Homo sapiens: one gene and its partner. Changing the gene in region 1 together with any one later gene gives a genetic interaction. Each region holds a gene or a part of one and is shown in the gene's direction. Other genes may lie near its edges.

Region 1 (13,016 bases):
AAAAAATAAATTGAAAAAAATGGATAAAATATTGTCAGTTTGCCTAATTTGTAAACAATTAGTATGGATGGATAGCTTTCTCTTATTCTTTCAGAAGATGAAACCTGCCCTCTGATGCCTTATTAATACTGTTAACTTTACAATTCTTTCTTATGGATGGTATATAAGCAAACTTTAAAACTGGATTAAGTTGGCCAGGTGCAGTGGCTCATACCTGTAATCCCAGCACTTTTGGAGGCCGAGGCAGGTGGATCACCTGAGGTCAGGAGTTCAAGACCAGCCTGGCCAACATGGTGAAAACCCATCTCTACTGCAAATAAAAAAAAATTAGCCAGGCTTGGTGGTGGGCACCTGTAGTCCCAGCTACTTGGGAGGCTGAGGCACGAGAATTGCTTGAACCTGGAAAGTGGATGTTGCAGTGAGCCAAGATCACACCAGTGCTCTCCAGCCTGGGTGACAGAGTGAGACTCTGTCTTAAAAAAAAAAAAAAAAAAAAAAAAAGGCTGGGTGTGGTGGCTTACGCCTGTAATTCCAGCACTTTGGAAGGCTGAGGCCAGCGGATCACGAGGTCAGAAGTTCAAGACCAGCCTGGCCAAAATAGTGAAACCGCCTCTCTAATAAAAATACAAAAGTTAGCCGGGTGTAGTGGCACGCGACTGTAGTCCCAGCTACTCGGGAGGCTGAGGCAGGAGAATCGCTTGTACCCGGGAGGCAGAGGTTGCAGTGAGCTGAGACCACGCCATTGCACTCCAGCCTGGGTGACAAAGTGAGACTCTGTCTCAAAAAAAAAAAAAAAAAGGATTAAATTAGATTATCACAAATAACAAATTAAATACATTTTTCCTTTTTTATGTAACAGGAGAAGAATTTCTCATGAGCTACCTTATATAGAGTAATAAACTTACCAAAAGGAAGAAAACTGAATGTTTGTGTTATAGTATTTAAATCTCAAATCATAACTTGGAAATCCCATTTTTAATAAAGAGAAAACACAGTTCCAATTGCAATTATTTTTTTAACTGTATAACCTACTGATTTCTTTGATTTTTTTTTTTCATGCTGTATCTTTTTATCCTGAACAGAGATTTGAAATTGGATAACTTATTGCTAGATACAGAGGGCTTTGTGAAAATTGCTGATTTTGGTCTTTGCAAAGAAGGTAATCGAATGTTTTTAAGTTTCTTTTCTGATTCAGAATTACTGTTTCTTTGTGCATCAGTAGTTTTCAAGTTTGTCTATGGAAAACAAACTGTACTTTTAACTTTATTCTTCATTAAGACATTGTAGATACAATGAAAACATTGCTTATATAACCTAATTATCACATTAAGAATTTGTTCTCTGAATACAAATAAGGTTAGATGTATAGAAATCATAGTAAGCTTCTCTGTGTGATTAATAATTTTGTCACTACTTTAAGGAAGTATTGATTAAGCACCAAAATCGTTTATTCTGGTGAGACTGTACACAGTGAATTTCATAGGCCTGATAATTTCCTTCCAGCTTCTTAAAGTTGAAACATTTAAAAATAGAAAATAAATAGAGATAGGTATCTCATGTATGTTTTTTGTATATTCAAAAGTAAATAAGTAAATTGGGGAAATTTGAATCAGAGGTAACATAAGAAAGGATAAAGATCATGGGCTTAGGCACTAAACAGTTCTAGGTTTGAATCGTGGCTTTGCCACTATTTGCTGTTTGTCTTTGGAAAACTTAGTTTTAACCTCTTTGAGTCTTATTTCCCCAATTATAAAAAAATGGACATAGTTCTTTCTGTTTACTAGTTACTAACATTCTCTATCTCCCTCTGCACTGGTGGCTTCTGTTTGCTATTTAGCTTTGTTTCCATAGTGCATAACACAGTGCATGGTACATCTTAAGTATTCAGTAAGTGTTTGATTAATAAGTAGTTGGATGAATAAATGAATGAACTCTGTAGATATATGCCCATCACATACCCACTGACCTAATTGCTGAATCAAGTAAGTTTTTTCTTGACTGGGCTTCTTTTTATTGGACACTGTTCCTCTAAATGCTTTTGTTTCTCAGCATCTCTCCTTAGCCGGCTGCTCTTCACTGCAATTTTTTGACTAGCAGCTATATCCTAATGACTCCCAAATCTATTATTTCCTTTCCTATGGATTCCAAAGATATATATTCAACTGTCTACTAGACAGCTCTGCCTGAATAGTGAAGAGACACCTCAAACACTACCCAAACAAAAATCATTTATTTTCCGCCGGTAGTCTGGGTGTTGGTATCACAATCCCCTCAGCCTTCAATCTGAAAGTAAGGAATTATCTTGCGTTCTATCCTGTTCTCTACTTCCCGTATGTAGTTATTCACAAAATTCTACTGCCACTTAACCTCCTGAATATTTCTGAAATCTATCATTTCCAGTCAGCTCCTTTCACCCATTATCTTGTTTTGACAAGACAGGTATAATAATCTCCTAATTGTTCCTATTTCTAGTCTTTTTCTATCCCAAATCAACCTGCCATGTAATTGCTGAATTGCTTAAGGAGTCCATATAAATACAGATCGGACCATGGCACATACCTGCTGAAAACTCTTCAGTGGCTAGGATAAGGTGACATACAGTGCCGTTACTGATCTGCCTGCCTTCCTCTCTGGCCACATCTCTTGCTGCTCTCTGTTTAGTACTTTTTGCTGCAGCAACAATGAACTGCTTATAGTCTGTGTCCCTCTAGCACTGTCACCCATCCCAACTCTATTTGCTGACTAACATCTGCTCATCCTTGTCATTCAACTCAAGTGTAACCTCTACAGGCAAGTTACCAGAGATTCCCTTTTACTACCCCAACTCCCAAGTCTGCTTTAGGAGCCCTTCTTCACTATTCTACCTTATCTTGCTCTTCCCTTGTTGTTATAAAATTATCAATAAATATCCATTTCCCTCCAGTCTCCTGTAAGCCCCTTAAAGACTGTGTCTTACTCTCGTTTTTATGTTCCCGCTACTTGACACAGGTGCCTAGAACATAAAAGGTGCAGAAAATATGTGTGTTGAATAACCAGACTTATTAATGCATTATCATAAAAACATGTTTAGTAGATTATATAGCTAACAACTTTTGAGTGCTTACCGTGTGCCAAGAATTTTGCTTCATATGCATATCTCCTGTAATTTATAACAATCGTATGAAGGTAGATAGTTTTTTTGGAGGAAATATTTTATTTTTTATTTTATTTTTATTTATATAAATTTATAGGGTAGAAGTGCAATTTTGTTACATGCATAAATTGCATAGTGGTGAAATCAAGGCTTTTAGGATATTCGTCACCCAAATAACATACATTGTACCTATTAAGTAATTTCTCATCATCCACCCCCCTTCCACCTCCTCACCCTTCTGAGTCTTCCTTGTCTTATCATTCCACACTGGTAGATGGTATTATTAACTCTCATATACAGATGAAGAAACCTAGAATTTGATGTTAGACAACTTTCCCAACCTCCCACAGTTAACAAATGACAGAACTGGAACTTAAACCAGGTATTTATTAATCTAGAGCCTGATATTAACCACTTCCATGGAGTTTTACCAGTCTACAAGAAACATAAGTTATATTTCTTCATTAATTAACTTTTTCCTAGTTTTCTCCAAGTTACTAAAAGGCTGGTGCAGAACTTACATAGATATTAATACTATATCACTGTTTTTTTAAATAATATTTTATTGAAGAAAATAAAAATCATTATGATAGTGTTAAAGAAATTTTGCCAAAAAAAAATTTCTCCACTCCAGTGTGCTAATGTATCTAATTGTGCCCTTCAGGTCTTGGTTCATAGACACACATTCATTTCTATTTTATAGTCACTATATATGCATACCTAATTATTCTTAATTTAGGATTGAGAGCTTTTCTTTAAAATTCTTAAAAAGATGACACTTATGACAAGTTTTTAACACTTTGGAATACATAGAGATAATATCTTCAATATGTAGACTATATATTTGATTAACATATTAATAAATTATGAGGAACATATATTTAAAAACTAGTTAGCCAAAATGTTAATACAGGCTGAGTATCCCTTATCCAAAATGCTTAGAATGAGAAATGTTTTGAATTTCAGATTTATTTGGATTTTGGAATATTTGCATATATAAATAATGACATATCTTGAGGCCAAGACCCAAGTCTAAACACAAAATTTATATATGTTTCATATATACCTTATACATAGCCTGAAGGTAAATTTATATAATATTTTTAATAATTTTGTGCATGAAACTAATCTTAAGTACTTGCGGAATTCTCTATGGCATCATGTTGGTGCCCAAAAAGTTTCAGATTTTGAAGCATTTTAGATTTTGGATTTTTGGATTAGGGATGTTCAACCTGTACTCTCCCTTCCCTCCCCTTCCCTTCCCTTCCCTTCCCTTCCCTCCCCTCTTCTCCCCTCCCCTCCCGTCCCCTCCTCTCTCTCTCTCTATATATAATATATATTGAGATATATATATGTTTTTTGTTTGTTTGTTTTTTGAGACAGAGTTTTGCTCTTGTCACCCAGGCTGGAGTGCAATGACACAATCTCAGCTCACTGCAGCCTCCGTCTCCCAAGTTCAAGCAGTTCTCCTGCCTCAACCTCCCGAGTAGCTGAGATTACAGGCGGGAGCCACCATGCCCGGCTAATTTTTGTTTTTGTTTTTTTTGTAGAGACGGGTTTCATCATGTTGGCCAGGCTGGTCTTGAACTCCTGACCTCAGGTGATCCACCCGCCTCGGCCTCCCAAAGTGCCGTGATTACAAGCATGAGCCACTGCACACGGCCCTATCTCTCTGTATTATATGACACATTTGGTCAGCTTCTGATTATCCAAGGGTTTGCTTTTTGGTATTTTTGAAACTTATTTTTTTTAGAATGTTGATTTTATAATGAAGTAAATAAACTTATTTAAGATTGAATTGGAAAGATAATGGAACTTCACAATCAGTTCATTTTGTTATAATTTCTTAGCTCCCTTGTAATGACAAGAAGAAAAAGTAACTGAAAAGAAACATGGATATCTTATTTCTATTTACCCATTAATTAGACAGTATAGTTGCTATTGCAGTTTTTGCTATACCAGTCCTTACTGTTTTCTTGAAATGTCTTAGATATGTCTGAATTTGTTCACCATGCACAAATGTGCAACTTTAATTTTGCCTCCCAAAGATAGCTTTGATTTTTTTTTTATGCTAGATTTGTTTTCTTTGCTAACAAATGTTTACATTTTATCTTTTCCAGGAATGGGATATGGAGATAGAACAAGCACATTTTGTGGCACTCCTGAATTTCTTGCCCCAGAAGTATTAACAGAAACTTCTTATACAAGGGCTGTAGATTGGTGGGGCCTTGGCGTGCTTATATATGAAATGCTTGTTGGTGAGGTAAGCAGTGTGAAATAGGTAAGAGAACAGAGGAAGGATGATTGAAATAATAAAGCATGTCATTTATAAAACCACCTAATACTGTCTTCAGTATGAGTGGAATTTAAGTTTTATAAATATTTATAGTATACTAGTAGTCAGCTATCTTTCTGTAATACCTTCAATAAAGATTTTTATGTGGTTTGTGGAATGCACTATCAGTGCTTTGAAAATAGTTCCTTGTATTTCAGTATTGTACTTTTATTATGTTTTCTGATTTTAAGACATAGTCATTTTATAGGGAATGGAATAACAGAAAGACTAATAAAAGGAATGTACTCTGTACCTGTAAAGAAAAGCCCACTATAGATTGGTCAGAAATAAATGTTACCTTCGACTTCCTCCAGACTTCCGTCTGAGCAACACACTCTGCATCCTTGCTTCACCGGGAAACTACTGAAGTTCCTGGGGAAGCAAAGTAGAATTTCGTAAGAACAAAATGGATGGAGAGAGGAGAAAACCTATGGTAGCTGTGAAGGCCCTGATGCCATGTATGTCAAATTGATATCATCCGATGGCCATGAATTTATTGTAAAAACAGAACGTACATTAACATCAGCACGATAAAAGCCATGTTGAGTGGCCCAGGTCAATTTGCTGAGAATGAAACCAATGAGGTCAATTTGAGAGAGATACCTTCACATGTGCTATCAAAAGTATTCGCTACACCAACAGCTCCACCGAGATTCCTGAATTCCCAGTTGCACCTGAAGTTGCTATAGAACTGCTGATGGCTGTGAACTTCCTAGATTGTTAAATAAAATATAATTTTAAAAAAATGAAAGAAGTGTTACCTTAAAAAATGGTAGAGTTGAAAAAATTCGCATTTTTTCCTACTGTTTTCTGTAGATTAACTTAAATTTCTGAGGATAATTGAGTTGTACATAGAAATTATTACTATTAGGAAACAGTGAGTTATGTTAAGGCAATAATAGGAGACTAATAATTTATTATGTTATAAATTGTTAGAAATGTTGAATTGGGATGAAATTGGGAAAGAGTAAATCTTTTAATAAGTAATTGAAGATTACTTGAAGGGACTTGAACTGGAGATGCAAGAAAAATTATTTTAAGGGATTGGTTCATTATTCTGCAGTTTCCCCATGCCAGCAACCTCCCTTGTACACTTGTAAGTTTGAAGAAGTTAGTGCTGAATGAACAAATTATCAAATTGAATATCAGAAATTTCTAAAGTTTTGTTCTATGCTTGTCATTTATTGGCACTTACCCCAAACAAATGGTTTTAGTTTCGCCGGATGGATAACCCCTTTTGGTATGTCAATTTGAAGTGGATTCCTTGGAAAAGGAGGAGAAGTATGGCTAATTAAAATTTATCATGTGCTAAGCACTGTACTGTATGCCTTAAATATTAGTTCATTTAATTTTGCAACAGCCTTTAATAAGCTCAGTACTGATCTTCTGCCCATTTTCGGAGGTGTAAATAGAGACACAAAGAGATTAATGACTTGCTTAAAGTCACACAGCTCTCATATGGTGGAGCTGGAATTTTAACCTTGTCACTCTGGCTCCAGAGCATATCTAAAGCATTATGCTTTGCTGCTCCAGGACAGGATCTTCAATTCATCCAGCCTTGTTTCTGTTCTTAAGACTAGTGGTCCAGATCTGAATTTTTCACCTCTATTTAGAAAAGCTGTTGTGCAGTGTTTAGGTTGGAAAGATTTATTTTAGCTCCAGTCCACAGTGGCTTTTACTTTCTGAGAGTGCCAGAAGTTCTCATAAAATAGTTAATCTGCTGTAAGCTCTGGCATACTTGAACTCCTCCCCACCCCCTTCCTTTATTTTAACAGTAACATTTTGGAGGGTTTTTTTGGTTTTGTTTCATGTAGTATTCAAGTAAGTATGAGATTTATGAGATTCAATTATGTGCTTGCTTAAAATTTACTCTCCATATTAGAGATGACATGTGCAAAATATGAGTTTATTACAAAATACTGTAGAATTAATCCAGTTGAATCTACTCCCTCCTATTATAAAGCCACTGGAGGGTTTGGCAGAAAACAAGGAAGCTCCTGTTTCATGTTTTTTAAAAGAGCTAATTGATTGAGCTCTTAATTACCTAGAAGATAAAAGACAGTGGATCTGGCTATTTCTTCACAGTTGTTTCTTGCAATTTCTCTTTAGTATCTCCACAAGAGGGTAGCTGGGAAAAGAACTAAACTTAAAACTCATCAGTCTACTTCATAATTTTATAGCATTAGTGAAATGCTAGTGATAACTCCTTTTTAACTATGATGAAAGTAAGGTGTGGCTAAAGTTTATGTCAGATTTCTCTATTATTACAAATAATTGTAAACTCACCGGATATATTATACATGTTCAGATTTGTATACTTCTACTAGTTTTGATTACTGGAAAGACTCCAGGAATAAACAAACATCGCAAGTCCCCTTTTTCCTGTCTCAGATGGGAGTGAAGATACCAGAGAGATTGAACAGAATGCTGGACATGGTTTTAGATACTGTCAGTGTTGACATCTGAACAGACTATTGGTTTCCTTTAAATGTGCTGAAAACACATTTGTTAGCTTTCAGTTGTTAGCCCTGTTTGCTTACAATCTATTTGCAGAAAAAAGATACTACATATTTTAACAAATGTATAGATATTTCTTTGCTGTTCAGACTTGTAGAATGAGTTTTCAAGTAAAAATTGTTCAAGCAGAAGACCAAAGTGCTGTCTTTGTATTATCCATTGAAATTCCCATTGAGAATCCTAGTAAAATAAAATTTTCTTCTGACTTACTGTTTCAGTCCCCAGAAGAAATTAGATTGTCCATGTAGTACATTTGATTTATGTATTTTGAGTGTACTACATTGTCCCACGTAGTATATTTTATTTATGTATTTTGAGTGAGTGAATGAACAAACTAAGGTTTTGGTAACTGTAAGCTTTGAAATTTTCTTAGCTGTGAGCAAGATTAGAAGCTCAGCCTTAAGAAGTTGGATTCTGAATTTATTTTCACAGATTCTTAAAGATTGCTCACTTTCCCTGGATATTGCTTTCTGCTTATTATTCTTTAAAACTTAATTGGAAGCAAGCAGCCAAATCAAATCTAACGAGGCTAAGTAAGCCTATATTTCTTCAATAGCCAGTGAGAAAATAAGGTTCAAGATACTAATTCATTTCAGTGATTTTAAGGAATTAAATGATATTTAGACATTTGTTTCCTGATTTAAAAAATGACTGAGTGATTTTTAAGCCATCTGAAATTCTGAGGCAGGCAGTCACATTTGATAGACACGTTTTTAGCATAGTTGAAAGTTTCTCTCTTTGTGAATCAAATTGTCATACTGAATATAATGTAACTACTTTTTTATGTCTCAGGGTCATTATGAAAAATGATTTTAATACTGAGCTTATGGAAATGCCCTAAAACTTTTTGTGTTTAGAACATTAAAAATGCCTGGCAATGTGTGCTTTTTGGGTTCCTTTCAGTCTAATTTTGTTGGCAGCTGCTTCTTAATACAGTCATTATGCTTGCTAATCCATGATTGTGTTTTACCACCATTAATTTACTGTTGACTTTAAAATCCAAAGCACATTTATATCTGATGTATTTCCGCAGATTGCCTTCCTTTATTATAACATTTATTACCATATTAACCTTATCCATTTTCTTCTGTTTTTCCACAAGATTGAGGTTCTTCAGGATTTATCTATTATCTAAATATTCCCTACTGTCTGTTAGACACTAAAAATTGACTGTCTGGCCAAATAGGTGATTGAGTGAATGAAATAAAATGGAATGGAGTGGAATGAAATTAAATGAAAAGTCATATCATATATGAGATAGACAAGTTTTTTATAAGGGTCTATAAAATTTAAAGATTTCAGAAAGAGTATATGGTGTATTCCCTCTGTAATAGATACATATCTGTTGTCACTTCTTATAGTTCTTTTGTTGTTGTTTTGGTAGGCATGGGTTTATTGTTGTTGTTGTTGTTGTTGTTGTTTTGTCTGTTTTTTCTTTTTCACTGCCTGGATCTTGGTTGTACTTTGAATGGGTGATAAGATTTTACTGCCTTAAAACTTGCTTTAACTTACTCAAAGGTATTTCTTCTAGTCTCCCTTTCCTGGTGATGATGAAGAGGAAGTTTTTGACAGTATTGTAAATGATGAAGTAAGGTATCCAAGGTTCTTATCTACAGAAGCCATTTCTATAATGAGAAGGGTAAGAATTAAAATAAGGATAAGAATTTTTTAAAGACTACTTTAATTTTTTATACTAAAGAAAATTTCCCAGTAGAACTTTAAAAGCTGTTTTTCAGTTCATAAATGTTGCATGGCTTAGACAAAAAAAGACAAAATATATCTAAGTTTTTTAAAGTAATAATCCTTATCAGTGAATTTTATTCTATTGGTTTTATTTTAACTTTTTTATTTTACATTATGCTAGCTGTTAAGAAGAAATCCTGAACGGCGCCTTGGGGCTAGCGAGAAAGATGCAGAGGATGTAAAAAAGCACCCATTTTTCCGGGTAAGTGTGACTATTTAAAATTTTTTATGAAACTAGAGCGATTAGATTTAACAAACTAAACTAGTCATTTTTTATTTTATGATCCAGCTAATTGATTGGAGCGCTCTGATGGACAAAAAAGTAAAGCCACCATTTATACCTACCATAAGAGGACGAGAAGATGTTAGTAATTTTGATGATGAATTTACCTCAGAAGCACCTATTCTGACTCCACCTCGAGAACCAAGGATACTTTCGGAAGAGGAGCAGGAAATGTTCAGAGATTTTGACTACATTGCTGATTGGTGTTAAGTTGCTAGACACTGCGAAACCAAGCTGACTCACAAGAAGACCTCTTAAAAATAGCAACCCTTCATTTGCTCTCTGTGCCACCAATAGCTTCTGAGTTTTTTGTTGTTGTTGTTTTTATTGAAACACGTGAAGATTTGTTTAAAAGTACCATTCTAATACTTCTTCAAAAGTGGCTCCTCATTGTACTTCAGCGTAAATATGAGCACTGGAAACAGTTTCATGGAGTTTAAGTTGAGTGAACATCGGCCATGAAAATCCATCACGAATACTTTTGGATCAATAGTCTATTTTTAAAAAGAAAGAAAAAAACCACTTTTTTATAGTCCCTAGCTTTGCCATATGCCCGCCTTAAGTGGAAGGAAAGTTAATCACTTAACTATGTTTTATAAAAAGAAAAAAGGGCTTGGAATGCTATTACTGTTCACACAAAGTATGATTCTGTTTGAATAAGGCAAATGCTCCTTTTTTTAAAAAAAAAGACATTACTGTAATATCAAAAACCGTGGCAGTTTGTATACAACTCGGGGCTTGATTTTTTTTAAAAAAACAGAATGAATTGATGTCTTATTTTATAAATGTTCTATATTTATTAGGAGAAAACTTTATATTGCCTTTTTTATCAATCATGTAACAGGCTTATAGCTTTCCAACAGAGCTGCTTGCCAAACAATTTTTTTTGTTTATTAAACAGTGCTGAAACAAACAGGATCAGCATTTACTTAAGATGTTAAGAATGAGGACTTTTAATCAGCCGAACCAAGATATTGTTACCTGTATGCATTCCCAAAGTCTAGATGCTCAGTATGTTCAGTCATATCTTTCAGAATCAGTGAACCGATTACCCTTTTTTTGGTATTCACTCTACATCTGCCAACCTAGTTCACCTTGGTTTTGTGTCTGCTGTAGAAGGGAACCATAACTTGGTTAAACCGTAGGGATTATCATTGTATACATGCTGTGAACATGTATATGTGCAAGTTTTAATGTATTCTATGTTGTAGGCTTATTATTTAATTTTACCACTTCATCACTTTTGTACAGTGGCCAAGCAGACACCTCAAACTCCAGCATTTACATTAAGTGCATTTGTACATTTTAGGCCACTGGATCCAGATTTTATATTGGCAGTTATTGAGGGCAAAAGCAATATATTGTAACAGAATGTATAAATATTTTTGATAAAACAGTCTATATTTTATTAAAAAATGAATTATAACACTAAAGCTGTACCTCAAAAGTCTCAAAAATAATTTGATGAAATATTTTATACAACTCTTCAAAGGATCCGTCTGTGGCTTTTTATACTCTTTTAGGGTTGTCTTTTTACAAACCATGACTTTCCACTTGCCTGTAGTTTTTTGTTTGTTTTGGTTTGGTTTGATTTTATATTTTTTTCTCCTAATCTATGACTTTATTGTTTTTTCTTAGTTTAGTAATAGCATCTTTGATCCTGTGCTTAGCATGTTAGGGTCATTATACCTCAGGAATAGCAAGCTGTTAAGTAACCATACTGAATTAACTATTTAATTACAGTGAGCTCATCTCTTAAAAATTGTTCAGGTGTAAATCTTATGAGAAACATGAAAAAGCACACTGATTTATGGAGAGTTGAGCTAAAAACATTTATAAATATTTGCTGGGATGTTTTAGCATCTTTTCATTGTACTCTGAGAACAATTAAAATTGTCCAGAGATCATTTATATTACCTTCCAAATTGTTTATTACCCAAGATCCTTTGGGAGAAAATCTTATAGAATGGGGGAACAATATGTGGTTTAAAGTTATTTTAAAATGCCAGTTAATTTCCTCGGCAAAGGACAATAGAGGAACTTAGCTTAATTGTCTGGCTTTAATTTAAACTGTGTTAATACAACATTAAAATAAAACACTAAATACTTTTGAGGTACAGTCTGCTCACTTTTTTGGTTCTCAAATAGCAAAGAAAGTAATGTCTAAAATAGGCTCTTAGCATTAAAAACTGACAGCATTTCGTAACTACACAGTGTACAGAATTTTTTTTTAATTGAAGTCAATCACTAAAAAAATTAGAAGGCAGGGTCTATTTACACAATTAAGCTGAAGAAAGCACTAATTTTTTGTAGTTTAAAATATATATATATTTTAGTCAGATTTAAAATTTTAAGCTTTATAGAGTGTAAATATATTTTGCTATTACTGTATGTGTATGTGACTGCTCAAGCACTTTGTAAAGAAATTAGGATATTTTAGAATGGTACACTATGCATTCAAATGAAATGTGCCTTTCACTATGTCATTCTAAGAAAACAAGTGTTTTTTGCAGTCATAAATTATCACAAATGCACAAATTAAAGTCTATATAGATTGAAATTTGTAACTTTGGTTTTAAGTATTCTTTCCTTTTAGAAACTTCCTAATGATTAAAATATACTTTAACTTTTCTGTGTTCAAAATCTCAAAGACTAATTAACTTTAATAAACATTCTTGCAAGTACTTTTTGTCCTAGTGAAGGCTTAAAACCATGAACATTCAGAGCAAACTGTCCACTTCATTGGGAATAATGGGAAAAGTTTGTATTCTGCTCCTGTAAGGTCAGTAGCATCTTTTATTTGAAGCATATTTATGGACTGCTTACTGTGTATAGATACTGAGAATAGGAAGTTTTTTTTTTTAAAGCAACAAAATGTTGATGAATGAAGAACAGCCTGTTTTAATTAAGATGCAAGCACCAGTATTGTATGTACTTTTCTCTTGTTTGAGGTTAGCTTATTTTAATTTAGGACCTGGCTTCTCAAAAAGGCAAATGAATAAAAC
Region 2 (13,016 bases), on another chromosome or scaffold:
GCAAGGGGAAAGGGCCCAGGGAGCCGGCTCATGACGATGAGCCTGTCTGAAGCTTCAACGCGGGCTGTCCGGCAGTCTGCATTCCTGCCGAGTTCCTCAGCCCTCTGTTGGGTCACCTTCCATAGAGGCAGCTTAGTCCTCAGTTCAGTGAGCATGGAGTGGAGACTGCTTGAGGGGTGCTGAGCAAAGCCCTGCCTCTTACAGGATGAAGGTGCTCTCCAGAAGGGACACTGGAAAGTATTCCAAGGCGAGTCGAATTCCCAACTGAGGGAGCTTTGTGGAAATAAGCCCGCCCAGCCCCACTTCTGGAGACGTTCCCATTCAGTAGGTCCGAGCTGTCTTAAAGAGAAACCAAAGTGGGGATATTAATGGTATCCAAAGTGAGATCTACCCCACCCTCCCTCCTCAAAGGAGGTCAGATCAAGAAAGCCCAAGCCCGGCCTGGCAATTGGGACCTTTCTTCTCACTCCAGCCCAGGGTGAAGGTGGACAAGTCACTTTGACCCTTCAGGCTTCTGAGCTGTTGTTTCTGAATTCAGTGAATATTTACTGAGTGCATAGAATATGCTAGATATTCTGGGCTAAAGGTTGAAGGGGGGGTGAGTTTTAAGGGTTTCTGCTCTTGCTTCCAGATTGCTTTCAAATCTGGAAAGGACACCAGTGGTTTGTGTGTTAGACCCACACTGCCGTAGCACAGAATACAAGAAACTGGCTGAGAGCTCCAATAGGCTTTTAACAGTAATTTCTGGCTTCACGTATTTAGTTTCATAACTCATGATTTTTCAAAAACTTCTGGTTTGAAGACACCGATTGCCGAAAGTCCATTGTGCTGCATAATTACACTTGGTCCACGTGACAGCACTAACATGTTCTGAAATGTTTTTAGAAGTAGTCTCAGCAAAGATGAAGGATTCCTCCCTGTTTGAAAAGAAAATATTCTTTGTTTTTTCTTTGATCTAAGCTCTAAGACTAGCAGCTAGCATCTGAAACTTTTTTGACGAGAGTGACAAACCAACTCTAATATTAAAGGCAATTGATGATTATGGGCACTGAAGGGAAGGTAACCCCAGGCTGGTGCCCCGGAATAGGGATGGGTCACAATGTTGAGGACATTTCGCCTGTTGCAGAACCCACCTGCAACACAGTGTGGCCCTTGCCATGTGACTTGTGTGTGTGCCTGTGTGTCTGTGTGTGCGTGTTTTAATTTTGACTTCATAAGTACTCTAGTTATGAGCTTATTTAACATTGGGTTTTACTAATAGGGGTATGTGTTGAGAAAATTTCAAAGTTTTAGAATATGGTTCACCCACATGTTGCTTCCCTGTAAATATAATTTTTAAAACCAGATTCTGGGCCGGGCATGGTGGCTCACCTCTATAATCCCAAAACGTTGGGAGGCCGAGGCAGGCGAATCATGAAGCCAGGAGTTTGAGACCAGGCTGACCAACACGGTGAAACCCAGTCTCTACTAAAAATACAAAAAAAATTAGCTGGGCGTGGTGGCAGGTGCCTGTAATCCCAGCTACTCAGGAGGCTGAGGCAGGAGAATTGCTTGAACCCAGGAGGCAGAGGTTGCAGTGAGCCAAGATCGCACCATTGCACTCCAGCCCGCGCGACAGTGTGAGACTCCATCTCAAAAAAAAAAAAAAAAAAACAGATTCTGTTCCTCAGATCCATTCCATTTTTGTTTTCCTTTATCACTTATGGACATTTGAAATTATGGTAATAAACATTGTTAGTCTCAGTTAATTATTACTGGTTTATTCTTGAACCACTAATCCATAGAGAATAGAGTGTAAATCTTAACTTGTTCCTGTAGGCCATCCCCATTAAACATCATAGTGTTTTCTCATTCGTTCTTTTTCGTTTTCCTCCTACAGGAATGAATTTTCTAAGAAAATTCCAGCAGTTGGCTCTTTGGACGACATCTCTAGATTGTCCTCCATTGGGCCCATAGGCACAAGCTGGCCAGTTTGAATTTGGGCAAGAATCCAGGCATTGGAACTTATTCAAATAACTAGTTTGCCTGTAATTTTCACTTTTTCAGAGTCATCTGATAAAGCTTTCTTGCTACACATTTAGATAGATACACTCAATCCAGTTGTCTAGAAAGTTCCCTGAGCCAGCTGGGAGCAGGAGGGGTAGTTGGGGCCAGGAATATTGGGGGTGTGTTTACTGAGCCCCTAGAAAGTAAGTGCTAGATTTGACATTTCAATCCCTGAAGGCCCTGAAGTTCAGTATCAAATGACTGGTCCTGTGGACTGAGCATCTGTGAATTGCATATGCTTAGAGTAAATTTTACTCCTACCAGTTTCAGCAGCTTGCTTTAGCAAGCAGTATGGAAACACTAACATGGGGGAGTAGAATTTCTCTCTCTGATCCAAGTTTTATCTCATTCTGGTGGGTTTTCAAGGAGAGACTCGGAGTCCAAGTGTCCTTTCTGAATATATCTGGAACTTCTCATTAACAAAAGACTCAAGTTATAATTTAGGGGACAAGGCACCCAATGAGAATGCCTTGCAGGCAGCCCTAAGTACACCTGCAATTACACCATTACTAGCGCGGCAGCACACATGGCCCTGACTTAGTTTAAATAATTACGTAAGTCAACCATGATTGTTTGCCCTTTGCATAGAAGGGCAAGTATTGGTACCTGTTACAACTTAGGCTTTTTTTTCTTTATGTTTGAGCCATGATGAGTGATTTACACTGTTGCATCCATATGTTGAGATGTAAGAATAAATTAGACTTGGTAATTGCCCTTAAGTGTCTGGAAGTCAACTGGGGAAAGAGAGCTAGAGATAATAAGTGTGAAACAATGTCACAGAATCAATGACGGAACTCTTCCCAGGACAAAGGATGACTTTTGAGTTCAGTCTTTGCCTTTAATTCTACATGGGGAGGAGAGCACGTTTAGCCACAAATGGAAGGGATTACTCATTTGAGCTATTTGGTTATATGATTATTTCCCCAGAGAATAGGATGTGCAGGGCATTACACAAGCAGTGCCAATAGCAGCAAAGTTCTTGAGAGTGCTAGTAATTCAAATGGCAGGAAGAGAAGGAATAAATGGTAAGGCTACCTACAGTTCACAGAGAGCTCCATCCTCACTGTGGCTTTGGATTTTGTCCTGTGTGAAAGAGAAGTGACTGTGAACTGACATGCTGTGTTTGGTGTTTTAGAAAGATGGCTGCAGCAGCGGTTTGGGGAATGGACTGCAGGAGTGGCATTGGAAACAGGAAGGTTCATGACTATTGCCAGAGACAGAGGATGAAGCAGGAGCAAGGAAGATTCAGGACAGGGGACTCCGGGGCTGATCAGGAGGCAGAACTGGTTGATAAGTATATGTAGCAGCATAAGAAAGAAAGAATCCCAGATTGACACCCAGGCTTCTCACTTGGAAGCCTGGATAGATACTGAATGCAATCACAAAGGCTGGGAAGTCAATGGGACTGCAGGGAAGGGAAGGGAAGGGAGGAGAAGAGGAAGGGCAGGAGGGTCCAATATCAATATTCAGCTTTTAGATGTGTTGAGCTTGAAGTGCTCAGATGGAGAAGTCCAGGAGGCAGTAGAATACGGTGGTCCAGAGCACAGGAGAGCAATGTGGCTTGAGTTGTCATTTGCTCACATATTTCCGTGTCAGTTACTTGTCTTAGATCACAGAACAAGTTCTCCTCTCACAGTTTCCTGGCTCCACCTGTCTCATGCTCACCGTCAGCATCGAAATTGAGCCACACCAGGGGTTCTGGATACCAGCTTCTCTCTAGGTGAGGCTGCTATAGTCAGCAGCTGATTAGTTGCAGTTATCAGCAACTGGTAATATAATATATTGTGCATATAAGTGTACCAGAAGTCATGTTTATATATTGCTGCAAATACTCGGAATGGGGATCTCTTGTTCCCTGCTTAAGACCACATCACATTACTTGGTTTTGTACGCTAGTGGCTGAACCAAAAAAAGTAGGAGATGATTTTTTTTCTTTTTTCTTAAAGCAGTAGCTTTTGAACCTTGACCATGCTTTCTAACCAGCTGAGGGGCTTTTGAAAAAGAGGGTGCCTTACTGTGCCCCAGACCAGGACAATCAGTATTTCTGGGGAATGGAGCCTGGCACACACACATTTCTTAAAGCTCCCTTGGCAATTCTGAGGAGTGGATTACATGTTGTATGTAGCTCGTAACGAAAGAAATCTTGTCTTTGCTCTCAGACCCCCATTTCTTACTCATCTCATGAGCTCCTTCGAGATCCAGAAACAGTTGCATATTTCATTAGTAAATCAGTTCCAGAGTCACATTTTATTTCACAAGTTAGTCCATTAAAAGTTTCCTGCAGTGAGGAAATAGCCAGAAAGAACACTCCACCCCTCCTCCTTTTTATAACTATAGGGTCTGGCTCGACAGAGCAGGAGCATCGCCATCTTGGACAAGCCCCTCATTCTAAAGTTCACCTTAATAAAAAACTGCCTAAATTCAAACTGCATCAGCCTAATGGCTAAGGTCAGCATGACCATAAACCACAAATAACATCTCCAACCGGAAACATTCGAAACTCCTCCTCGACCAGAGACATGCTAGTCCCGAGATAACCCCCCTCCAGCAGGGAAGATGCCAGTCTCGGGATAACCTCTCTCTGGCCGGAAAGATGCCTGCCCCAAGATAAACTTGCCTCCTCCCAGAGATATTCCAACCCTGCCATAAAACTTCTCCCTCAAACAGGAACATTCCAAAATTCTGATAATCTCCCTCACCCTAAAACCAATATATACTCCTAGTCTGTAAGAGAAAGCGCTCTTGACCAAAATTCACCAGGAGTGCCTCCCAGGTTTTAACTAAAGAAAACCTCTCTTTAACTGCCAAAAAAAAAAAGGGAAAAAAAAAAGCTTTCTGCAGTGGCTTTCAGCGGGCCCAGCATGGCAGCAGCACCTGAGAACCTGTTGGAGATGCACACTCTTGGACCCCACCCTGGCCTCTGAGTAAGACACTGGAAGGGCAGGCCCCGGTCTGTGCACACAAGTCCTCAGGGAGATTCTGACTGATGCATGCCAGATTTTGAGAACTGCTGATATACTCCAGGCACATCGCATGCTGGGATCTAGATACACCAAGGGAACAAAATAACTGCACTTGTCCTCTGAGGACCGACTTACCTTTTGGAAGGGCTGAGAAAGAGAGACACATACAAGATCACTCCCTGTAATGCAATGTTTTATAACAGATGTGATTTGGGATTTCAGTGGGAGCCCAAAAGAGGGACTGACTAATTCAGCCTCTGTGACAAGGGGAGTTTCTCAGAAACAGAATGCTTAGCTGGGCCTCCAGGCACAGGGACAGGAATGAGGAAATACTTGTAGGCCCTGTGCTCCTTCAGCAAAACCCTCAGTTTCTTGTTATTTTTATAAATGCAAACATCTTATTAAAGTAGATGCTAAGGCATTAGAATTTCCTGCTTTATTTTTCTAAATGACCATGAGGAAACCTGGAATGTCAAAGATAAAGTGCAACACATTCTGCATTTAAAAATTAAAATGATCCTTTTTAAAAGTAGCAACCAGATGTGAAAAATTGGACTGGAGTCCAGGTTATAGTTGATAGCTTTAACTTTCTCCCCAACAGCAACAGCACAATTTTCCCTAAAATGTGTTATGAATAAGTAAAATGACTACTTCACATCCTTTAACTCTTCCTACAGAAATCTAAGAGAGAAATGAAACAAAAGTTTGCACAGTTCTAGACACGATAAATACATGTGAAATCACACAACTCAGAAAATGTCCCTTAAATTAATTGAGCCATTGGTACTTGTGAATTAGAAGAGACATCTATGTTCTGATCCACTGTTGAAAGCTGTACAATGTTACCTATTTATTTGCAGACATCCTTTGGAAACAAATAGGTAGATTTGCAACAAATAAAGAGTGGAGTACAGCTGCTGACATTACCTTGTATATTCATGCCTTTATGTAAAAAAAAAAAAAAAAATATATATATATATATATATATATATATATATATACACACACACACACATATGGAGGTAAAGACCACTGCTTGCTTTGCAGTTGTTTTAAGAGCATTCATGAAGGATTTTATTTTATAAGCAGAAATGTGATATCTGACGATTTTACCACTACATGCTTGCAGGCCAGTGCACAGCAGATGACGTCATGATTGTTTTAGCAGTCCTATCGTTTTACTTATGATGTCATTACAACCCTTTGCTAAAATTTCTTTCCTTTACTCCAGGTTTTGGATAAAATTGATGCATTGCACATAGTCTCTCTGATAAGACAAACTGGCATTTGTATGTGAAAAACTGTGCATGTTTTAGTGTCTCTGCTGATACTCAAATTATCCATTATTTTAGTGCTGGAATAAAAACAAACCACTTAGTGAATTTGTGCAGGTCCTTAAGGACAGGCAAAGGTGTCCTGAGATTTTCTGATCATTGTATACCAAATTTTAGAAACTTTTTCAAAAACATTTTTTTAATTTCAAAAACCTGGTTTTGTTTATTTACCAGCAATCATTGAATACCTGAAAGCTTTCAGGAGATTTTATTACAATGGTTTCTATTCACTTACAAAATTATCTCCTAGTTCATTCTCATACACTGTAAGCCATTGTAAATGCTTCAAATTGTGCCGAACAAGATAAACTAGACAAACTATTTTAAGTTTGTTCTAGTGCTAACTTGCAAGATCTAATGGCTCCAACTAGATTTTTAAAATAAAGTATATTTTAATATATTATTAGAAAGTTAAGCAATTATCTGTTTATAGGTAACAAAAACCCTGGAACCCCAATGTCAGATGTCATCCACTTTTGATTAAGTCCAAACATATGACAGATAAACAAAAGATGGTTGGCTGGGCTCAGTGGCTCATGCCTGTAATCTCAGCACTTTCAGAGGCCGAGGCGGGCGGATCACAAGGTCAGGAGTTTGAGACTTGCCTGACCAACATGGTGAAACCCGCCTCTACTAAAAATACAAAAAAAACAGCTGGGTGCGGTGGCACGTGCCTGTAGTCCCAGCTACTCAGGAGGCTGAGGCAGGAGAATCACTTAAACCTGGAAGGCAGGGGTTGCAGTGAGCTGAGATCACACCACTACACTCCAGCCTAGGCGACAGAGCAAGACTCAGTCAAAAAACAAAAAAAAAGTGGTCATTGGAGAATTATTGTGTCACCTGTTGTTTTTTAATGTACTAATTTTGAGAGGCTTTTAAATAGAGTGCACTATAGAACTTTTTCTTGGCTTCAATTTGCTACAATGTTAATAGAGAATCAGAAACCTTATCCTTATAGATGTTTCTTGATTTTTTTAATTTCTGGTGACATTTATGAGTGAGAATAGTGTATTGCCCTGTTTTCTTTCTTACTCCCCTTTCTTCTTCCTTCCTTGCTTTCTTTCTTCTTCCCTTCCTTCTTTCTCTTCCTCGCTCCTTCTTTTTTACAAGCTGTTATGAATTAGCCTTCACAGAGAAAGAAAAATTTTTATAAATAACTGGAAATGAAACTTTGCAAAGGACTGCAGATGAAAAACTTTGTCAAATGACTGTAAAAATATACTATATAATTTTCAAAAGTTAGAAAGTACCAAACACACTCAGTATTCATGGTTATACAAGTATGCATACACATGTATTGCTCCCTGAAAAGTGGTGTTGTTAAGGGAGTTTTTCTTAGTACGCGGCTTAACATATTTTTTTCTGTAATTTGTTGTTAGTTATAATGGGGAGAGAAAACAGGTTAGAGTCTCCCCTCTCAGTTTCACCTTCCATAAAACAGCTAAACTAGACGATCGTCAGACTCCTTCCAGCTGAAAACATCTGTAAAATTAAAAACAAATCTAAATGTATGCAAGATATGTATTTAAACATGCTGGTAATAAGTGTGCTGTCCCTATAATTTAGATGCTAAAACATTGATGTCATAATAATAACAACACCTCGCATTTGTACAGCACCTCATAGTTTACACAATGCCTTAACATTCTTCTCTCTCAGCCTCCTACAACCCCACAGGATTGGGATAGCTTTCCAGATTGGGAGGTGAGGGACCCAGGCTCAGAGCGATTCTGCTGTTGTCCGTAATCACCAGGCTGGTGATCAGTGGGCACTGGGTGCTCTCCTGCTACACAGCACTGTCTCTCAACATGCAGGTCAAGGTTACTTATTCCTCCTTCAAGACGTCATTGGGTTTTTTAGCTATGGATGCCCCATCACTTTTAGTTCTATTTGTGAATCAAAGGCTAAATAAAGTATTCCTCAAAATTTGTTATACTTCTGTTACTAATGCTTAATGTCCCTCACAATTTCTGTATATTTCTGTGTATTTCTGCTCTGTTTTGGTTCCTTTCCCAGGTTTCTTTTTTGTTATGAAGTAGTTTTTAGACTCAAGTCTCTTCTGTATGTGTTATAACTGCCCATTCCATAAGATACAGGGCAGTGAATTTGTGAGCCTTGAAAATATTTACTTTAGAAATGAGAAGTATGACTTTTCAACGTTGTGTCATCAACTTCTGTAAATTTTCCAGACCTATAAATACTTGCAGAAAAAAAATGAAAGGAGAAGGCAACTTGATTTAGCAGTTGGGTCAGTTAGCAATGCCTATGGCAAGCTGTAGTAATTCCCTTACATAGATTTGTAAGACTCATTTCTATGATTTAAATGAAGGCATACACTTAACCTCTTTAGGGTGTGAAACAGCTTTTACAAAAAGAGACAAACTTAAGAAACAGTGTGGCCCTCCAAGAGTGTTCATTTTCCATATCATACCATTTGTAATAAGCTATTCTGGCTGGGATTTACTTGCAAGCATTGGCTTTTAAGAAGAGATGGTTTCACACATCAAATTATTCACTTGGAGGCACTTTCTGGGTTGAAGGAATGGAATGGAGAGTGCGGCAGTGAGTAGATCTCTCAGTGACGGTGATGTGCCTCTCCCAGAAGAAATTTCAAAATGCAGTGTTCATTTTCCTCCACAAGAAAGGAAGAAACTGTTTTGTTATTGTTTATTCCTAACATAGTGGAAACTTTTCAGTACTCTGGCAGAAATTTCCCAAAAGCAATTTTCTATTTCATGATTATAAAGTAGCAAAGGAAAAAGTCCTGCACTCCAGCTGAGCAATGGATCTCCAGTTGTTATCTAGGTGCTGCAGGTTTAGAGAGGATTGCCAGGAGAACACATCGATTTTTCAGGCCTGTGATGACGTATCTCTTGTTGAATAAGTAAACCCTTCCAGTAAACAGACAGTTAGTATATTGATTTCAGGGTGGCTTTAGCCACTGAACCTGTAAGTCTTGCAAAGGTTACTTGGGCAAAAGCATCATTATTTTACCTTCAGTCAACAAAAATCTACCTGGCCAAGGCAGAACAGAAAGTTCAGCAATTTGATGAAGTGGGACAACATGAAGAATCAGGTGAGTTGCCTACTTTTTCACTTCACTTTCCACCTTTAGAGATTCTTGTTTAGATGCAGAGTAGTGACGTGCCTGGTGTCAGGGAGAGAGTTGAATGAGAAAAGTCCCAGAAGGGCAGAAGACTTGGGTGATTATCTGAGTCCATCTTTCCTTATCACATGACAGAGTTCTTGAAGTCTTGGCTAGGAATTCTAGGCTTTTAGATTCTTTGGGCAATGGCTACTAAATGTTCATAATGTTGCTCAGTTGCAAAAACAAGACATTCAAACTATAGCCAGGGAGATAAGTAGTCACGAACTCAAGGCCTAAATTCTGCTGATGGAGCCGATGAGAATTGGGTGCTAAGGCAAAGAGAGTTGCCAATATTATATTCTTCGGGGTTTTTTGTTTTTATTCGCATTTTGGAAAAGGAAAATATTAGCATTCCTCTGACTTAATATTGAGAAGACATTGGGCACTCTTTTTCCTCCCACACTTGTCTTCTTTCACTAGGTGACAAGGGAAGAGGTAGCATGAGGTGGTGGTCACAGGTGAGAGGGGCTGTTGTGAGCACAGGCATGTTGACTGCACATTGGTCACCTAGTAGAAGTTTTGCAGGCTTGGTGACTTCTGAACACTGTTTTCAAGGTTGATTTTTAGTTGAGAGAACCTCTAGGTACCACGTAATGTTATTAACAGTAGTACTGATCTCACAATCGCCCTATGTCCCATTCACAAGATGTTCTGCCAAGCCATAAAAGGCCCAGTTAAGTTTAAGAGAAGTCTCAAAAGTAACAGATGATAACTAATTAATACCCAGTGATTTTGAAATGTAGACATCAAACATACCAATTCAGTGGTATCATCCTTAGAGGCAGACAGAGGATGATTAAATCATTCAGCCCATCTCTGTCTGAGGACGCAGCTTAGCACAGCATGGTGGAGGCTAAATGGGCCTTAAGGGAAAAAATGATATCTGAAGATGCAATTTATTTCAAAAAGAGTTTGCTCCCGTGAATTTTCACTCTCTATGTAGAACGGCACCAGCACACACTTTTCCTGAGCCTTTGCATGTGTGGCAGGCAGCGGCCTGGCATCCTGGGGAACTGAATGAGGACGCAGATGACCCGGACGTGTTCACAGTTTGACACATCTGACTCCCAGATCAGGGACAGCTAGCTTTGCTGGCTGGTTAAGTTGATGATTCCATCTTTGCCTGGTTCTCTGACTGTCTCATGCTTTCTGTTATTACTATTTTGCAGCAGATATTTCTGCTCATTTTTCAATCATATATGCATCCTGGATGGCATAGAGTTGATTCTCCTAACAAATCAGTGTCCCTTTGTATTTTTTTCTGGCCATAAGATAGAATATATATGTCATTTATTAAAAATGGAGAAAATGTTCAGGAGTTTCTTGACTCAGAGAGGGAAAAGGGATACTCAGGGCACTTTTTCAGCCAGGAATTTACTACCTTTGCAGGGTAAAGGGGACTCACCACGCTGGAAGTCAAAATAAGCCACCAGTGCCAAGTGTTCAAAGCCCTTAGAATCACAATGCTCTTAAAGCAAAGTCTTCAACAATGCTTGAAAACTTCCACTGGTTCTCAGTATGTCCAAAATTGTCATGTCTATGAATGATTTTCTCAATCTGAAAATTTTTATAGCAGGCTAAAGAATGAGATAGGTCAGTGTGATTCTAGAACTAATCATTAACATTCAATAGATGACTATTTTATTCTAGAAAAAGCAGCAACTTTCTATTTACTCTCTATTTTGAGGGTAAATTCTCTGTAAGTAGAAAAAGCAAAATGTGGACATGGGACTAACATATGAATATACAAAGCAAATGTACCGAAAAAATCTTAAGACCTGCCTTGTGGTGTTTTTTGTTTTGTTTTGTTTTCATTAAAGTGACTTGTTAGCCTCTTGCTCCCTGTGAAGCACAGGGAGGTGACGTGATGTGCACAGGGCAGACTCTGCCATATGCCCTGGCCTTGAACTCAGGGCCCCCTGGGGACTGCAGGGGATGCTGGCCATGCTGAGCAATGCCTGTGGGTGTCAGTTTCCTCATCTGCAGAATGAGGGTAGGCCTGGTGCTTATTTCATAGGGTCGCAGAGGGGATTCAGTGACAGGGTGGTGTAGAGGCTGGAGCGTGCCCCATGTGTGCACGACAGCCTTCCAACTAGGGGAGGCGGGCCTGGGCTCTCACCAGAGAGCCTGTGTTCTCCATGGCTACATGACTTTGCCCCAGACGTCCTTCCCGTGGTCTGGACCCTGGGAAGTCGCCAAGAGCCAGACAGGAGAAAGGCTCCACTTGGCTCTCCTCTTTGGTGACCATCCCTTGCCTCCATGGCGGGACTCTCAGGTGACATCCCACCAACCCTCACTTTGCTTCCCTGGTGGGTCTCACTTTCCCTCAAGAGTGTTGCTTTTTTGTTTCCTGCATAGTCCTGGGCCAGTTTTGATAACCCTCTTCATTTCACTTCAGAAACCCTGATGATTTCTTCCTGTGCTCTTTTTACCTTAGGACTTTTACTATGACGACTGTGACTGGCCCATTTCTTGTTTTTTTTCTCTTGCTCTGCTTTCTCCCCCATCATCACTAAAGCAGACATGGCAATGATGGCCATGCACACTTTCCAAGGGTCCAGCTGTAGATCTTCATGGTTCCCCAGGTGCCTGGACCATCTTGTGAGGAGGGAGGCAAACACACCCTGCCTGGAGCACTTGGCCCTTTCGGCAATGTTTTGGCTTCCTCAAGTGAGAAAAGAATGGATTTGTATTCCCCCTCTGCATTATTGTTTTTGTTTTGTTTGTTTGTTTTGTTTTGTATTGAGACAGAGTCTCACTTTTTTCCCCAGGCTGGAGTGCAGTGGCCCGACCTCGGCTCACTGCAACCTCCACCTTCCGGGTTCAAGTGATTCTCCTGTCTCAGCCCCCTGAGTAGCTGGGACTACAGGTGCCCGCCACCACACCTGACTAATTTTTGTATGTTTTGTAGAGACAGGGTTTCACCATGTTGGCCAGGTGCCCATTATTATTTGATCTGGAATTAACTGAGCTACTGCAGGAATTGCTTGATTCACTGATGACTGGTGTTGAGCCAGTACACACCCACACCCAAGGACTGTGACTGTCTTCTGAGGTCCATCCTCAGAAATTCCTGTCTCTTCACCTAGTGTGTAATAAGGCCTGCGCGTGTTATATGGAACTGTAAAAAATGCGCCAACCATCTGTCCTTCCTCTTTATCTGATTACTTATCATTGTTCTCTAAGTTGCAAGTTAATAGACTGATCATAAATTAATGCATGCTGGAGACTTGCTGTTTCCTACTAGCAGCATATAAAAGTTATTTTTAAAGTTGTTTTAAATCTGTGAGTAAAAATAAATTGCTTTGCTGCAAGAAACACCAAACATGGAAAAGCTAACGGTTCAAAGTTAATAATTTATCTTATGGACATCACTAGTGGCATAGTTGCTTTAAACAGTGAGAGGATTTAATAGATATTTGATTTGCAAGTGGGATGAAGGGTGGTCTAACCTTTGTCCTGTGTTTACCTTCCATGAGATCCTAGAGGTTGTACAGCACAGTAGTGGCATGTGACACACTTGAG

What was found.
Region 2: changes in PKN2 (region 1) and EGFR together harm fitness more than expected from each alone (negative genetic interaction), as found in Homo sapiens cells (2 studies listed by BioGRID).

What each region holds. Positions count from the first base shown.
Region 1 is NC_000001.11:88,823,228-88,836,243, forward strand, and holds part of PKN2 (serine/threonine-protein kinase N2), read left to right. Parts: intron 1-1,082; coding exon 1,083-1,159; intron 1,160-5,253; coding exon 5,254-5,396; intron 5,397-9,516; coding exon 9,517-9,624; intron 9,625-9,849; coding exon 9,850-9,930; intron 9,931-10,017; coding exon 10,018-10,221; 3' UTR 10,222-13,016. UniProt on the Homo sapiens protein: PKC-related serine/threonine-protein kinase and Rho/Rac effector protein that participates in specific signal transduction responses in the cell.
Region 2 is NC_000007.14:55,022,017-55,035,032, forward strand, and holds part of EGFR (epidermal growth factor receptor isoform a precursor), read left to right. Parts: intron 1-13,016. UniProt on the Homo sapiens protein: Receptor tyrosine kinase binding ligands of the EGF family and activating several signaling cascades to convert extracellular cues into appropriate cellular responses.